2 separate regions of the Homo sapiens genome follow, and region 1 is linked to region 2. Evidence: fine-mapped expression QTL. A gene starts in region 2. The other region holds a variant in brackets. All regions are shown on one strand. Distances are from middle to middle.

The links. PIP is the estimated chance that this variant, and not a neighbour inherited with it, causes the effect. A credible set is the group of variants that fine-mapping cannot tell apart.
Region 1: its variant is the best candidate, but not a certain one, in a credible set for the expression of FOXK1 in whole blood (INTERVAL, PIP 0.61).

The regions. Positions count from the first base shown.
Region 1 is chr7:4,780,669-4,788,668 of GRCh38, reverse strand. AP5Z1 (adaptor related protein complex 5 subunit zeta 1) reads right to left here. Exons shown (of 17, transcript NM_014855.3): 2 at 7,357-7,494; 3 at 6,915-7,101; 4 at 5,209-5,353; 5 at 4,871-4,980; 6 at 4,298-4,466; 7 at 3,621-3,761; 8 at 3,217-3,254; 9 at 2,985-3,147; 10 at 2,241-2,419; 11 at 893-1,035; 12 at 375-515. MIR4656 (microRNA 4656) reads left to right here and starts at 30; the gene lies at 30-104. The variant G/A (reference allele first, on the strand shown) is at 3,160.
Region 2 is chr7:4,677,976-4,686,528 of GRCh38, reverse strand. It overlaps FOXK1 (forkhead box K1), which reads right to left and starts at 4,234. Exons shown (of 9, transcript NM_001037165.2): 1 at 3,661-4,234. The coding sequence starts at 4,220. RefSeq lists enhancers at 2,850-3,377, 4,237-4,531, 4,733-5,233 and silencers at 3,934-4,003, 4,154-4,523.

The sequences.
Region 1 (8,000 bases), 100 kb before region 2:
CACCCGGGACAGTAAAGCCATCGGGACAAAGGCTGGCGTGGGCTGAGGGCAGGAGGCCTGTGGCCGGTCCCAGGCCTCCTGCTTCCTGGGCTCAGGCTCGGTTTGTCCATCTGCAAAATGGAGCACCCACAGGGCCAACCTCCAAGCTTATGAGGGTTGATGTGGGCAGCAGAGAGAGCTGAGACCAGGCCCCGCCCCCGGCAGACCCGTGGTGCAGAAGCAGGGCCTCTATAATGGTGATGACGGGGACGCAGCCTTGTGTGGGACACAAAGCACCCTGGCCTCAGCCTAGGGCTGAGCAGTGAGCCCCACCCCAGTGGCTGTGGCCGGGCTCTCTGAGCCACTGGTGGCCCCCTGGCCCTAGGGCCCCGTACCTCTCAGTGGCGCCACTGGCCTTGGGGCGCAGCAGGTATTGGAAAAGACCCTGGAACTGCGGGTCCCGGAAGGCCTCCAGGCAGCTGGGGGCCCTGAGAGAGGTGTCCCAGAGTGGCCTCTCGGATGCAGCCGGTGCTGACCTGCGTGGACAGACGCCCAAGGCCAGGCTGGGATGCGGCCCCTGCACTCAAGGGCACCCCCGTCAGGGAGACACACGGCAGGTGTCCCTAATATCACAGCACCTCGGGTGCCAGGAAGGGCTTGGCATGGGAGGCTCCAGGCCTGGGCGTGAAGACGGGTGAGGCACTCCAGGGTGCAGGGGCTGCCCTTGGCAAGTGGCCAAGGGTGACAGACACACCCTGTCCTAGAGGTGGCTTTGCAGGGGAGGACTGGTCAGGTGTTGGGGGGGGAAGAAGGAGGGTCCCCGGTGTAGGGGTCAGGAGCAGCGAGGAGGGGGCCCAGTGTGTGGAACCAGCTGGCTGGGAGACGCAGCGCTGGCAGAGGGTGAGGGGCCCACCTGAGCTGCAGGTCCAGCACCGCCGTCAAGCAGGGCAGGTCCAGCAGCGCGTGCAGCATCTCCAGGGCTGTGCCAGCGTCCACCAGGGCCGGGAGGAGCGCCACAAACTCGGAGGTGAGGGGTGGGCTGTTCCAGGCCAGGAACTGTGGGCACAGCACAGCGGTTCGGACACGGCTCGGAGCTGTGGAGCAGGCGGCAGAGGGAGGAGCCAGCTAGGGCCCCACAGCTGTCCCAGACCTGCAGTCCCCAGGAGGGCTTCTACCTTTGCCTCCTCCCGCTTTTTATTTTTTTGAGACAGGGTCTTGCTCTGTCGCCCAGGCTGGAGTGCAGTGGTGCAATCATAGCTCACTGCAACCTCAACCTCCCAGGCTCAAGTGATCCTCCCACCTCAGCCTCCTGAGCAGCTGAGACTACAGGCACACACCACCATGTGAGGCTGTTTACTTTTTGTAGACAAGAGGTCTCCCTGTGTTGCCCAGGCTGGTCTTGAACTCCTGGCCTCAAGATCCTCCTGCCTTGGCCTCCCGAGGTGCTGGGATTACAGGTGTGAGCCACTGCCCCCAGCCTGTATCTACTTTCGTACCAACAGGTCAATAATTTTCCACTGTCCTGGTTTTTCTCCAGAAAGAGGATTCCCCACCTCAGTTGAAAAGACCTTACAGCGAGGCGAGGCTGCAAAAGACACTTCAAAAGCAAATGGCACCAGGCCGGGTGCGGTGGCTCATGCCTGTAATCCCAGCACTTTGGGAGGTCAAGGCAGGAGGATCATCTGAGGTCAGGAGTTCGAGACCAGCCTGGCCAACATGTCGAAACCCCATCTCTACTAAAAATACCAAAAATTAGCTGGACATGGTGGTGGGTGCCTGTAATCTCAACTACTCAGGTGGCTGACGCAGGAGAATCGCTTGAACCCAGGAGGCGGGGGTTGCAGTGAGCTGAGATTGCGCCACTGCACTCCAGCCTAGGTGACAGGAATGAGACTCCATCTCAAAAGAAAAAAAAAAGGCAAATGGCACCCAAGTGCCCAAGGCACCAGGCAGGGCTCCCGGGGGAGGGATCCTACCAGGCAGCAGCCCTGCCCCAGTGCTGTGAGAACAAACTCACCGTCTTGTGTCACAGCCCCCTCTCCAAAACACCCACAAGGGAGTTCTTGGACAGCACCGTCAATCACGTGACGCTGCAGGGACACCCCAGATCCCCACCTCACCCTGCACACCGCATTCCAGGCCCGGGACTCACAGGGCTCTATGCTCAGCCAGGACTCGCCCTGAACCCCGCTGGAAAGAGGGGAGGAGCCCCAGGGACTTACCATGCCCCTGCCCTGGCACCCAGGGATGCCCAAATATACCTTAAAGAGGTTGGGGAAGCTCAATCTGAGGGTGCTGAGGTGCCCGCTGAACAGGTGGAGGTTGTCCCTGCAGAACTGGATGAATTCAAAGGCCAGCATGGGGCTGTGGAACTGCTCCACCGGGATCCTGGTGAACAGGTGCTGGTAGACGGCTTCCGAGTCCACTGCAGCCGCTTCCCCTGCAAGACCAGGGCCCGCCAGGGCACACGTCTTGACCTCGCCCTGGCCGTGCTTCTGTGACTGGTTAGGGGCCCTGAGTCTCAGGCCTGCTCTCCAGGACACCAAGGGCTCCGAGGCGTCCTACGCTGGGACGCTGGGGAAGCGGCACTTGGTCTCCCTCGCCCAGGGACACGGACAGCTCGTGAGTCACACACACTATGGCACATTCTTTGGAAGGTGCTGGTTCCTAGACTTTCAGGTTTCCTGGGCTAGGGACACAGCAAAAAGAGTCTGTTTATTTCTCTATTTAAAAGTTTAAAAATTACCAACATCTGGCACAGCAATCCATCAAAAAGAAATATGAGCTGGGCACGGTGGCTCATGCCCGTAATCCCAGCACTTTGGGAGGCCAAGGCAGGAGGATCGCTTGAGGCCACGAGTTCCAGACCAGCCTGGGCAACACAGCAAGACCCCTGTCTCTATTCAATCAAAAAAAAAAAAAAAAAAAAGGGAAGAAGAAATTCCATCCTAAAACTAAAGGCAGAAGCAGAGCCCCGAGTCAGCGCCACCCCACCCTGGGCTCACCGTGGCTCAGGAAGAAGTGGGCGAGGGGCAGCAGCACCCGCACAGAGGCCGGGTCCCCGCGCACCCGCCCGTGCAGGGCCTTCAGGCAGGAGAGACTTCGGTACAGGAAGGACGGGTCCTGCCGGCACAGCACGTCCAGCACCAGCACGGCCTCCACCAGGCACTGCGGGACATG[G/A]ACCACATCAAATGGGCCGAGTCGCTGCCTCCCATCCCCTGGTCCCCAGCCACTTACAGCTTTCTGCAGGTCGGAGTCCCCCTTCCTCAGGGCTCCTGGAAGGAGGGGAAAAAGTCAGCCGGCTCTGTCTCAGCCTTAGAGTGGCCCAATGAGGGGGCAGCTTGTGCTCTGGAAGCTCCAGGCAGGACCGGGAGCAGGGGGGTGGGACAGGCCCCCAGGAGGACTTGAGTGGGACTGAGGCGAGGGGCCCAGGTGGGACAGGGCCGGGCTGGGGGCTGGGGTGGAGCCTGAAGAACACTTGGGGCTGACCCCAGAAGCAAAAATGCCCCTGCTCCAAACCGGCTACCCAGGGACCCCCTCTGTGGAGCAGTAGCTCAGGGAAGCTGTGCTGGCCTCAGGTGGCCTTGCAGAGCAGGTGCGTCGAGCCCTGGGGAGGCCAGTGCCCTGGGTGGGGGACTCACGTCGGTTACTTTGCTCAATGAGGCGCTGGCAGTACTCGAAGGCCACCTCCCGAAGCCGCTCCCGGGGCGGCAGCAGGCGGCCGGCAGAGGAGGTGGCGGAGATCACCGACAGAGTGGAGCCCTCCTGCTCTGACCTGTCATCTGCGGGAGGTGGGAACTCTCAGCAGGCTGACGTGTGGCTCCCGGGCTGGGACATGCCTGCTGCCCTGCTTGGAAGGGCAGGAGGAGAGCACAGGCCGCAGCCCCTCCCGGGAGGCGTGAGGCGTCACCGTCTCAGGACGTCCACCCACCCGGCAGCTTCCCCATCACGGCCGCCCTTCAGGGTGGCTGAGGCTTCTTCCCCAACAAGTCCACAGAGCAGCCGGGAGGAGCTCAGTGGCGTCACTCCAACAACCTTAAGGGTGCCTGCCTTAAGTGGGAGCTCTCACATCTGCACATTGCATGAGGGTCACGGGGTGTCCAGAGGATCCCCGGTGCTGACCCTGGACCCCAAAGATGCTGGCCAGGGAGTGCTCTCCGCCTAGCTCCAGGTCAGCAGGCTGCGTTGCTCAGTCCTGACCTCTGCTGCATCCTGGGCACACCCGAGTCCCCCCACCTCCGCCCGTGTCCCCCTGCGACCAACCCATAGTGCGCCCACCTCCCACCCCTGTCTGACGTCATCCCCCCACCCCGCACACCTGTGTCCAGGGTGCCCGGGCCCTCGGGGCCGCTGTGCAGCAGCCACGCCCGCAGCATAGAGAAGGCCTGCACGTTCAGCCACTGGTCGTCTGTGAAGCGGTGGCCGCTGGAGAGCACCGTGAAGAAGTCTGTGGCTACCGCCCCGTCCACCTCGGTGACGGGGCCCGGCTGTGGGAAGGACAGGCAGGAGTGGGCGGAGGGGGCCGAGGCCGGGAAAAACGCCAGCCTTTAGCACAAGCTCCTCAGGAGGTGGAGGAGAAGCTGCCTGAACATGAGCCCGGGCAGCGGCCCGCCCTGTGTGATGCAAAAACACCATCCCCACCTGACCCCCAGGCAGACGCGCGTCGCACACCCTGCTCCGCAGGCCCTGGGACTGAACCCGCGCACAGACCCCCAGAGCCACACGGGTCAGGGGGCTGTGGCCCTGCCTGACCCAAGCCCCGCAGCAGAGGCAGGCTCGTCCTGGACCCCGCGGAACGACAGCAGGCCTCGCCGCTGTGGGCACAGGAGCTCTCAGGGAGGGGTTGTCTGTGACTCTGTTCCCCATGGTTCCAGAACAGTCCCAGCCTCACCTGCCGGGCCCTGGGCGTGGAGAAGAAGCCGCCGGAGTGTGGGAGCCCTTGCTGGAGGCTGGCGTAGCGCAGCCAGTCGACCAGCCGCTTGCTGAGCAGGGTGGCCTGGTCTGCAGTGGGTGGGGTGGCATGGGGAGGTGAGGTTGAATCCTACAGATGCCTGGGTTGTTGGGATGCTGGCCGACTTTTCTCAGAAAACAGAATCCTGCAGCGTCCCAAACCCTCGGGCCTCCCCGTGTCCCCCACCTGCCCCCCACACTCCCAACCCACCATGGGCCCTCAGGGAAGGACCTGGGAAGGCAGACCCCCAACAGCCTCTTGGGAGGGGCCCCGCGTACCCTCCTGGAGGGTGCCCGGGCTGAGGACCACGACCTTGGCCATGACGGGGAGGAGGTGTCTGAGGCTGGGTCCCTCAGGCTGCCGGCTCTCCAGCGCTCGTAGCACGCCCTGGCCCACGGCTCTGACCTCCTCGTTTCTGTCACCCTTCAAATCAAACAGGGCAAACGCTGGGGTACTGGCCTGTGCCAGAGACCAGCTCCCCCATTTCGGAAGTCTGTGTGACACTCCTGAGAAGCGTCGGTCGCTGAGACCCCGGCCTAGCAGGTGGCAGGGAGGATGTCCCGCGCAGGCCCACCCCGGGCCACAAGGTGCCTGCTCCGCCTCCAGCCTCTCTCCCTGGGAGCTGCATCGCTGAGGCTGGAGGGGGCCTGGGTGAGGGCACGGCTGATTCAATGCTAAAAACACACTGGCGGCCACCATGGCCCTGGCCGCAGACACAGGACACCCCGTCCTGCGGGGCCTCCAGTGTGGATCCCAGTCTTTAAACCACCCACCTCACTCTGCACACCCAGGTGCTGAAACATCTGAGCAGCACCAGAGACACCCAGCACAGGGGCAGGGCCGTCAGGGCAGGGAGGAGGGCGGCTGGGTGGCTGGGAGGCCACGTGCCGGGCGGGGGGTGCACCGCTGGCGCCTGGCAGCAGTTCTGCAAGATCATCTTCCACTGAAAAAAATGAGTTGCTTGAGGAGAAGGGCGGGTGAAACAAACAAGAAGAGCCGGAGTCATCTTGTTCCAAAGGCCAGGAGCTACCACAGCATTACCGGGGTCATCTCGGAGGCCTGGAGGTGGCCTGCAGGAGGTCTGTGAGGTGAGGGGGCTGGGCACCAACCAGGATGACCCCAGTGATGAAGTACAACGCCCTGAGTACGCCGGGGCCCACAAGCTCTCGCCCACACAGAACTAAAGCAACCGCAGGCTGCACCCCAGCACAGGAGGCAACTCATGACGCTGCAGGCTGGGAACGGAGGGAAAAGCCCAGCTCCATCGCAACCTTCCTGCAGACTCTGCACCCCTGGGCAACCCATGAGCAGAGATAGCAGCTTCTCTCACACAAAGGCAGCCTGTGAACCCCTGGATCCCCACGCTGAGTGCCCAGGCCTGCTCCCGACACAGAGGGAGGGAGGACATGGACTTGGCAAAAACTCCTGGCCAAGGAGGGTGGATTGCTTGAGCCCAGAAGTTTGAGACCAGCCTGGGCAACATAGTGAGACCCCAGGTCCCTACAAAAAAATACAAACATTAACTGGGTGTGGTGATGCATGCCTGTAATCCCAGCTACTCAGGAGGCTGAGATGGGAGGATTGCTTGAGCCAGGGAGGTCGAGGCTGCAGTGAGCATTGATCACTCCATGGCACTCTACACTGGACAGCAGAGTGAGACCCTGTTTCTAAAAAACAAAACAAAAACCCCAAAAAGAAGGTCTGGAGGCCCAGCCTCCACTGACTCGCTGTCTCAAGGCTCTGTCTGAGAAACCAAACTCCACCACCTCTCCTGAGCACCAACATACCACGTGGGCCTGCTGGGCATGGGACCCCGTTCCAGTCAACAGGGCATGCCCCAGCCTCAAGTGTGCCAGGCACTCAGCACCGAGATGCGTCTACAACAAGCAGCCACCTGCCGGCTCTGGCGCCCCTGCTTCCTGTCTCCCCTGTTCCTTGGGAAGCAGCCATCCGGTGCCAACTGGGGTGGTGACTGCTGCGCTACCTGGGCCAAGAGAACGGAGGCCACCAGGCTCAGCTGCCGGCTGTTCTGCGTGTGGTCCCAGGCCAGGCTGAGGCTGTCAGAGGGGGACATCTCTCGCAGGATGGCGGCGCAAAGCACCTGGAGCTGCTCGGGGCATGCAGGCAGGCCGAGGGTGGCCTGCAGCAGGTCTACGCATGTCTTCTCCAGCCTGGAAGGCGAGATGCCCGTGGTGGGCGGTAACACGTCACGACCGTGGCAGGAGCACCCGGTGCCCCAGAGCACCTGGCCGGGCACCCTTGGGCCAGTGGACAGAGCATTTTACATGAGGATGGACCTTCAGCACTGGTTTAAGTGGACAAATGACTCAACCCCCAAGGAGCATCTGCAGTGACCTGCTGGGCGTGGGCTGGGTTCTCCTGGGGCCGCTGTGTGAGGAGCCGGCCTGAGCCGTCGCCACACTCACCTCCGGCTGTACTTCGTGGCTGAGATGATGAGGAAGAGCCTCTGCAGGGAGTCGAGGGTGTCCGGCCCCAAGTCCTCCGCCTGCAGCAGTTTACAGATCCGGGAACAGAACTTCTTCAGCTCCTCGTCCTGGATCTCCCTAAACAAAGAAGAGGACTTCAGGACCCAGAAGCACTCGCTGCTCGGAACCAAAAAAAGGATAACCCTTGGAGCAGGGAAAATCCCTCTTTAGAAAAGAGAAGCCGAGTGTGTGGAGGAACACGGTTCCACGGCTCATGGCTCTCGAGATAAATTCGCTGATTCCCTGAGCTGGTTCCTCTCACCCTGGGATTTCCCGATCCATCGCTGCAGCGCACTATGACGAATCTCACTCACGGAGGCCCCATGCACTTAGATTTTCTTGTTCCCAGGGCAGAAGGACTAAAACCGATTCTTTTTAGGGGTCTCATTCAAGAGTAGGAAATTTACTCTAGAATAAGGTGCCTTTCAAAAGATGTCTTCAATGAGCCTTTTGCTTATGGAAACAAGAATAAATTTTTTTTTTCCCCGAGATGGAGTCTTGCTCTGTCACCCGGGCTGGAATATAGTGTCATGATCTCGGCTCACTGCAACCTTCGCCTCCGGGGTTCAAGCAATTCTCCTGCC
Region 2 (8,553 bases):
CCTGGGAGCTCTGGCGAGATGCTTACCCACCAGGCGTAGTGTCACCCAGTAGAGCAAGATCAGCTCTAAGCTGGGTCACAAGTCTTTTTTTTCCCCCACCAATAATTAAAAATATTGAAGATTTGGAATTACGTACTTCCAGTAACAAATAGGGGTTGAATTCTGGCATCCTTCCTGAGTGGGAGCTCTACTGGAAGTGTGTGTGGCATGTACCTGTCCCAAGGTGAAGAGGGTGGCCCCGGACAACACAGCTTTGGAAAATGGTGTGGGCACCAACACAACATAGACCTCCCACCAAATCCAAGCACGTCCAAGGCAATCACATTCCAACACAGCAAGAGAATCTGTAGTTTACAGTAAACAAATTCACAATTTCCAGTAGCAGTGGCAATACCAGGTACCAAAGCCGGAGAGAAAACAGACACAGTAATTCCTGACATTCGGTGATGAATTTCCCATTCAGGGTGACAAAAACTTACGCATCTAACTTCCTTGCGCTGAAATCCTTAAAATTTCTTAATGACTTTCAACATAATAGGCTTAAGAATCGTTTTTTGGTTTTTTTTTTTTCATTTTGTTTTTTATTGAGATGGAGTCTTGCTCTGTTGCCCAGGCTGGAGTGCAGTGGCGTGATCTCAGCTCACTGCAACCTCCACCTCCCGGGTTCAAGCGATTCTTCTGTCTCAGCCTCCCAAGTAGCTGGGACTACAGGCGTGATCCACCACGCCAAGCTAATTTTTGTATTTTTAGTAGAGACAGGGTTTTGCCACATTGGCCAGGGTGGTCTTGAACTCCTGAACTCAAGTGATCCACCCGCCTTGGCCTCCCAAAGTGCTGAGATTACAGGCGTGAGGCTGTAGTCCAGGCTTAAGAATCTTTACCTAACCAAATGTAGTCCAGGCTTAAGAATCTTTACCTAACCAAAAAAGTTTATGACAGCCTGTTCTACATATGTGACTACTTAGGTGTAAGTTTTCTAAAATTAAAAAAAAAAAAAAAAAAAGTGAGGCCGGGCGCAGGGGCTCACGCCTGTATGCCTGTAATCCCAGCACTTTGGGAAGCTAAGGCAGGCAGATCACGAGGTCAGGAGATCGAGACCATCTTGGCTAACACGGTGAAACCCCATCTCTACTAAAAATACAAAGAATTAGCTGGGCGTGGTGTTGTGCGCCTGTAGTCCCAGCCACTCAGGAGGCTGAGGCAGGAGAATCTCTTGAACCCGGGAGGTAGAGTTTGCAGTGAGCCACTGCACTCCAGTCTGGACAACAGAGCGAGACTCCATGACAGAAAAAAAAAAAAAAAAAAAAGCAAATAGCTCTTTTCTAGGAGGGTGGACATGGACATCCACTTAATGTTTTTCCTTCTGCACATTTGCTTTGTTCTTGTAAATTTTACATTGCTGCCTACATAGATATTGCTCACATGTGCAGGTGAAGTCAAATAAAAACAGACAGGCGCAGTGGGCCAAGCACTTCACGCACATCTAATGCACCAAGTCAGCGGGCGGGCATCTGTGTAGCCTGACAGCCCCACCACAATGCCTGGTAATGCACCCACCGAGAACACGAGCTCCCTGGAGCATAAATGTGCAAGGACTGTATACACCGATAACATTTCATAAATAACAGGCTTGCTACTGGCCTATTCGTAGACGATCTGAGGTTGAAATTTTTTCCCCTTGAATTACAAAAAAAAAATACCGTGAAAGCCTCCTTCAAGATTCACTAAAGCTGGGCCTGACTCAGGAGTGCACCTGTTTCCACGGCAGGGGCAGGAAACCTGAAAACAAGACTTTAATGGAAGTACTTAGTGAACCTGAGTTATATAAAGGTGCGTCTGTAAAGCAGGCCTCTAAGGGGGGCCTGGGGAGCCTACCTGTCATTTTCTTACTGGAGGGGAGAGTGGCCAGGAAATGCATTTAATGGCCCCAAACGGAGAGAGTGTATTGGTTATGGAAGAGAGAGAACACACTAATATCTGAGGCAAAGAACAAATTTGTTATCTCCTGAGTTCTGATTTTACCAAAATGCACACCTTTCAGCACGGTTAGAAAAAGGTATACTTCCCCTCTCACGCCCCAAGGGGGAGTGAGTCATTGTTGATGTTGCATTTTAAATTATTCAATGCGATATCTGTAACCAAACATGCCAAGACTAAAAAAGGGGAGAAGTTTACAGACACAAACTTTGGGCCCTGGGAATTACCCCAGCAAAAATTCCCCAGACGCAAGGCGTTTATAAAAGGGAGTAATTAGACAGACAACCCTGAACAAGAACCACATTGAAGAAATATAAACACTGGTGATGAGTTAGAGGCAATCACTAAATAGAAAAAGAAAGTGGCTCCAGAGGAAATGAGTAATTAAACAGGCTTTCTCCTGATCAACAGACCTTGAGGTCCGGGGCAGAGCAGAGGGTGCGGAGGGCAGTGGAGCTGGAAAGGAGGGAACCGGAATGGGCGGGAGGTGACCACGGGATGCTACCAAAGGCACCGACAGGCCTGGGCAGCCGTCCAGGCCCAGCTGGGTCTCTCTGCCCTGGTGACCTCGGGCCCGGGGGAATCTAATTTGATCTTGGGGTCCCGCTACTCCATCCAAGGAGCACTAGTTGGGGATGTAAACTGAGGCACAGGCTTCCTGTCCTCGCCCCTCCCCGCCAGGCCTCTGCTCCTTCAGCACAGCCCACACTCCTAGGGACCTCGCACTTCCCGGAGCAACACCCTCCCACTGTCCTGGGTGAGTGTGTTGGGGTCCCCCAGGACCCAGACTGGATGGGGTGGGGGTGGCCCAAGGGTCCAGACCAGACAGGGTCAGGGGTAGCCACTGGGGTCCAGGACGGCAGGCATCAGGCACTGGGGTGACTTGAGGCCCTGGCTGGTGGGGGTCGGGGGTGGTCCTGAGAACCAGGTCAGGCTGGGGTGACCCTGGAGTCCAAGCTGGTGGGGGTCCAGGGTGACCTGGAAGGGTTGAGGGTGATCCCCAGGCCCAGGCAGCAGGGACTGGGGTCAAGGTGACCTCAGTAACCCAGCTGGGTGGAGCTGGGGTGGGAGTGGCCCTGCGAGCCCAGGCTTGTGGGGTTAGCGGTCAGGGGTGACTCCGGGGGGGCCTAGGAAGTGGGGGTCGCGGTTAACCTTGCGTGTTTAGGCAGGGTAGGGACGTAGATGACCCCAGGGATCCAGGCCAGTGGGAGTTCAGAATGACCCCGGAGTCCAGGCCGATGGGAGCTGGGGAGCAGCAGGGATCTGGGTCAGGGGTCTAAGAGGCCCAGCCAGATGGGCTTGGGGTATGGGTGGCTCCAGGAGCCCAGGCCGGTGGGAGATGAGGTCAGGGGTGACCCCAGGAGCCGCAAGGTGTGGGTCAGGGCTGACCCCAGAGTCCAGGCCGGTGGGGGTCGGGGGCGACGGGGTATCCAGACCGGGGAAAGTGGAGGAGATCCTCAGGCTGGAGCCTCCAGGATCGGGGTCGGGGTGATCCTAGGGAGCCAGGAGGCGGGGGTCGGGGTTGACCCCGGAGTCCAGGCCGGTCGGGGGTTACCGGGGGTGGGCCGGGGGGTGGGGGTCGAGGCCGAGGAAGCTGGAGGGGGATCCCCAGGCCCGGGCCTCAGAGATCGAGGTCGTGGGCGAGCCCCGGGTGCGGGCGGCGGGGGTCGCGGGGCCACTCACTGCTTGGGCAGCTGCAGGGCGGGCGCGCCGCGTCTCTGGAAGGCCCCGTCCACGAAGACGCCGTTCTTGCCGAGGCAGCGCAGGTAGAAGTGCGGCTCCTGGAAGCTGAGCTGCAGGTGGCGCCGCGAGATGAAGCTGGACAGGCCCATGCTCAAGTCCACCGAGCCCTGCGACGAGTTGCGGCCGATGGTGACGCTGGGCTGGCGCATGAGGAACTCGAACTCGCGGCCCTCCAGCCGCGCCAGCGCCGGCCCCGGGCTCTGCCGTACCGAGGCGGCCGCCGCGGCCACCAGGGCCGGCGCCGCGCCCGCGACCGCGGAGTCCCCGGATACCCCGGAGGAGCCCCCGGAGGAGCCCGCGCCCGCGATCGCGCCCGGAGGCAGCGGCGGTGGCGGCGGCGGCGGCGGCCCGGGCGGAGGCTGGGGCTGCGCGGGGGCCGGCGGGGGTGCGGCCGCGGGGAAGGCGGCGGCGGCGGCTGCGGCGCACAGCACTGGGCTGCAGGGCGCCGAGCGCAGCGCGAGCAGGGCGCGGGCGCCGCTGTCCTCGCCGACTTCGGCCATGTTCGCGCGGCTCCGAGCGGCCTCCGGCGGCGGCGGCTGCAGCGGCGGCGCGGGGGGCGGGGAGGTCGGGGCGCTGGGCGGGCGCGGAAACCCGGGCCAGATCGCGCCGGCGCGGAGCGGAGCCTCCCAGCCCACCGTGCGCCTCGCCTCGCCCGCCCGCCGGTCCCGCCCAGCGTAGCCCACGTGGCGCGCGCCAGCGCGGGGCTGGGGGCGAGGCCTGTGCCGGGAGGGCCGGCGGGCCCCCGGGAGAGCTGGGCCCGGCGCACCTCGTCCCCTCCCCGCGGGGCTGCAGGCGGCGGGCGCCCTTTCCTCCATCCAGGGGGAAGAGGGGACCCCTGAAATGCCCAGCCACAAAGTTTTGAGCCTGGGTCATTGGAGAAAGGGACGGATGACCTCAGCAGTCTCCCCGCCCCAGACACTCCAGGCCCCCAACCCTAAAGTGTAAGATAGACAGAAGATAAAATATATGTGTATTATATACAATACATATGTTTATATTCTAACCTCGCTCTGTCGCCCAGGCTGCAGTGCGGTGGCAAAATCATAGCTCACTGCAGCTTCCACCTCCTGTGCCCAAGTCACCCTCCTGCCTCTGCCTCACAAGTGCCACCACGCCCAGCTAATTTTTTTACTTCTTATAGAGACAGGGTCTTGCTATGTTGGCCAGGCTGGTCTCAAACTCCTGGTCTCAAGTGATCTATCTATCTCGACCTCCCAAAGCACTGGGATTACCCGTGTGAGCCACAGTGCCAGGCCTGATCATTCTTAAGCCCTCAGATTAAAGGTCATCATACTCTACTGTAACTGAAGACCACTTGAGATCCATCCCTGAATCCCTGATCCATCCTTCCTTCCTTCTTTCCTTCCTTCCTTCCTTCCCTTCCTTCCCTTCATTCCTTCCCTTCCCTTCATTCCTTCCTTCCCTCCCTTCTTTCCTTCCTTCCTTCCTTCCCTTCCTCCCTCCCTTCCCTTCCTCTCCTTCTTTCCCTTCCCTTCCTTCCTTTCCTTCCTTCCTTCCCTCCCTCTCTTCCTTCCTCCCTCCCTTTCCTTCCTTCCTTTCCTTTCCTTCCTTCCTTTCCTTCCTTCCTTCCCTCCCTCCCTTCTTTCCTTCCTTCCTTCCCTTCCTCCCTCCCTTCCCTTCCTCTCCTTCCTTCCCTTCCCTTCCTTCCTTTCCTTCCCTTCCTTCCTTTCCTTTCCTTCCTTCCTTCCTTTCCTTCCTTCCCTCCCTCCCTTCCTCCCTCCATTTCCTTCCTTCCTTTCCTTCCTTCCTTCCTTCCTCCTTTCCTTCCTTCCTTCCTTTCTTTCTTCCCTTCCTTCCTTCCTTCTTTTTTTTTTTTTTTGAGACGGAGTTTCGCTCTTGTTGCCCAGGCTGTAGTGCAATGGCGCAATCTCGACTCAACGCAACCTCCACCCCCTGGATTCAAGCAATTCTCCTGCCTCAGCCTCCCAAGTAGCTGGGATTACAGTCATGTACCACCAGGCCCGGCTCATTTTGTATTTTTTTAGTAGAGATGGGGTTTCTCCGTGTTGGTCAGACTAGTCCTGAAAACCCGACCTCAGGTGATCTGCCCGCCTCAGCCTCCCAAAGTCCTGGGATTACAGGCGGGAGCCACCGTGCCCGGCCGCCTGCCTGCCTTCCTTCCTTCCTTCCTTCCTTCCTTCCTTCCTTCCTTCCTTCCTTCCTTCCTTTCTTTCCCTCCCTCCCTCCCTTCCTTCCTTCTCTCTCTTTCTTGTCTTTTTCTTTTGAGACAGGGTCTCACTCTGTCACCCAGGCTGGAGTGCAGTGGTACAATCATAGCTCACTGCAGCCTCAACCTTCAGGGCTCAGGTGATTTTCCCACCTCACCCTCCCAAGTAGCTGGGACTATGAGCCACCATGCCCGACTAATTTTTAATTTTTTTTTTTTTTAAGGCAGAGTCTTAATCTGTCACCCAGGCTGGAGTGTAATGGTGCAGTCTCGGCTCACTGCAACCGATTCTCCTGCCTCAGCCTCCCAAGTCGCTGGGATTACAGGCATCTGCCACCACACCCAGCTAATTTTTGTATTTTTAGTAGAGACGGGGTTTCAACCATGTTGGTGAAGCTGGTCTCAAACTCCTGACCTCAGGTGATCCACCTGCCTCGACCTCCTAAAGTGCTGGGGCTGCAGGCGGGAGCCGCCTCACCTGGCCTTTTTCAATTTTTTTATAGAGACAGGGTCTCATTATATTGCCCAAGTTGGTGTTCAACTTTGGGGCTCAAGCAGTCTGCCACCTCAGCCTCCCCAAATGCTGGGTTACAGGCGTGAGCCACCACGCCCAGCCTATCTCTCTTTCTTTCTGGAGCCCTTCACTCATTCAATATGCTAGATCCAGCTAAGACAGATCTGAGAGAATGCCCCAGAGAGAAATCTTAGCTGAAAACAGGGAGTGGCAAACGTGGGCATCATTGGGATCCCTTTCGGACTTCAGTAGCCTGGTCCTCCATTGCCAGTTCAGGTTCCCCTAAAAAGGCGGTGCAGTTTCCACATTTCCCTCATTTACGAATTATTAAGGGTGGGAAAGGAGACACAGTTCCCTCCCTGGTGGAGCTTATAGTTGAGGGGGAGATGCAGACATAAATCAAAGACACATCCTAGAAAAAGTAAAATCAAGTCACAGCTGTGATACATCCGGTGAGGGACTGGTGCATGGTGACGTGCAAGTGTAAACGAGAGACTGGGCCTGTCTAAGGCAGGAGCTTCCCTGACCTGCACACCCACGCTCCAGTCTGGGGCTGAAATAGGTATTAATCTCATCTCTCAGCCTTGAATATGTGCATGCAGAGATAAGTGTTTGGGAGGCAAGGAAAGCTTTTTTTTTTTTTTTTTTTTTTTTTTTTTGAGACAGAGTCTCGCTCTGTTGCCAAGCTAGAGTGCAGTGGTGCGATCTCGGCTCACTGCAACCTCTGCCTCCAGGGTTCAAGCAATCCTCCTGCCTCAGCCTCCCAAGTAACTGGTACTACAGGTGTGTGCCACCATGCCCAGGTAATTTTTGTATTTTTAGTAGAGATGGGGTTTCACCAGGTTGGCCAGGGTTGTCTCGATCTCTTGACCTCATGATCCACCTGCCTCGGACTCCCAAAGTGCTGGGGTTACAGGCGTCAGCCACCGTGACCGGCCAAGGAACGCATTTTTAGCAGGAGCAGTAACTTGAGTACCTGCTTGATTGAGGTGGGGGGGATGGTAAACAGAGTCAGGGGGCTCCTCCTTGAGGTCTAAGGGATGCCTGATTAGGGAAGTGGTGTGAGACTGTGAGGGTAGTGCCCCTGCCAGGGAACTCTGTGTGATACAGAAGGAAGTATGGGCCGTGGAGGGGTAGGCAGGTGGTCACTGTGTGTGGAACCGAGTGGCCATGTTCAGCTGAACCAGGAGGGAAGAAGGGCTGAGGTGGGTCCTATAGGATCTGGGGCTGATCCTAGAGCAATGGGAAGCCACTGAGGGGCTTTACGTGCAAGACAGCAGGCACACCGACATGCAGTATCTGAAATGCAATCACTCTAGCGGCCATGGGGATCCTGAACTGGAAATAGGTCAGAGTGATGGCGGAGGTTGCTCAGGAAGCTGGAGACCAGCGAGAGAGGTGAAAGGAGAGAGGTGCAGAGAAGCAGAGGGATGCAGGAGATACTGATTTCCTGCAAAGGCATTTACACACACTGTTGGTGGGAATGGAACACAGGGCAGCCTCTGTGGGAAACAGCATGCAGGGTCCTCAAAAAGTTAAAACGAGGCCGGGCCCAGTGGCTCTCACCTGTAATCCCAGCACTTTGAGAGGCTCAGATGGGTGATCACCTGAGGTTAGGAGTTTCAGACCAGCCTGGCCAACACGGTGAAACCCTGTCACTACCAAAAATACAAAAAAATGAGCCAGGCGTGGTGGTGGGCACCTGTCCCAGCCGCTCGGGAGGCTAAGGCATGAGGATTGCTTGAACCTGGAAGGCAGAGGTTGCAGTGATCTGAGATCATGCCATTGCGCTCCAGTCTGGGTGACAGAGCGAAGCTCTGTCTCAATAAATAAACGAATAAATAAATAAATAAACAAACTAGAGTTCCCATAAGATGCAATGCAGACTTCCACTTCTGGGTTTATACCCCCAAAGAATTGCAAGCAGGGTCTTGAAGAGATACTTGCATGCTATGTTCACAGCAGCGTTATTTATTCACGAGATCCAGAAGGTGGAAGCAATCCAAGTGTGCGTTTACCCCTGTGGTACCACATACAGTGGGGTATGATTCAGACTTGAAAAGGAAGGAAACTCTGACATACGTGACATGTGAAGTGATGAGCTTTGAGGACATTATGCTCAGTGAAATAA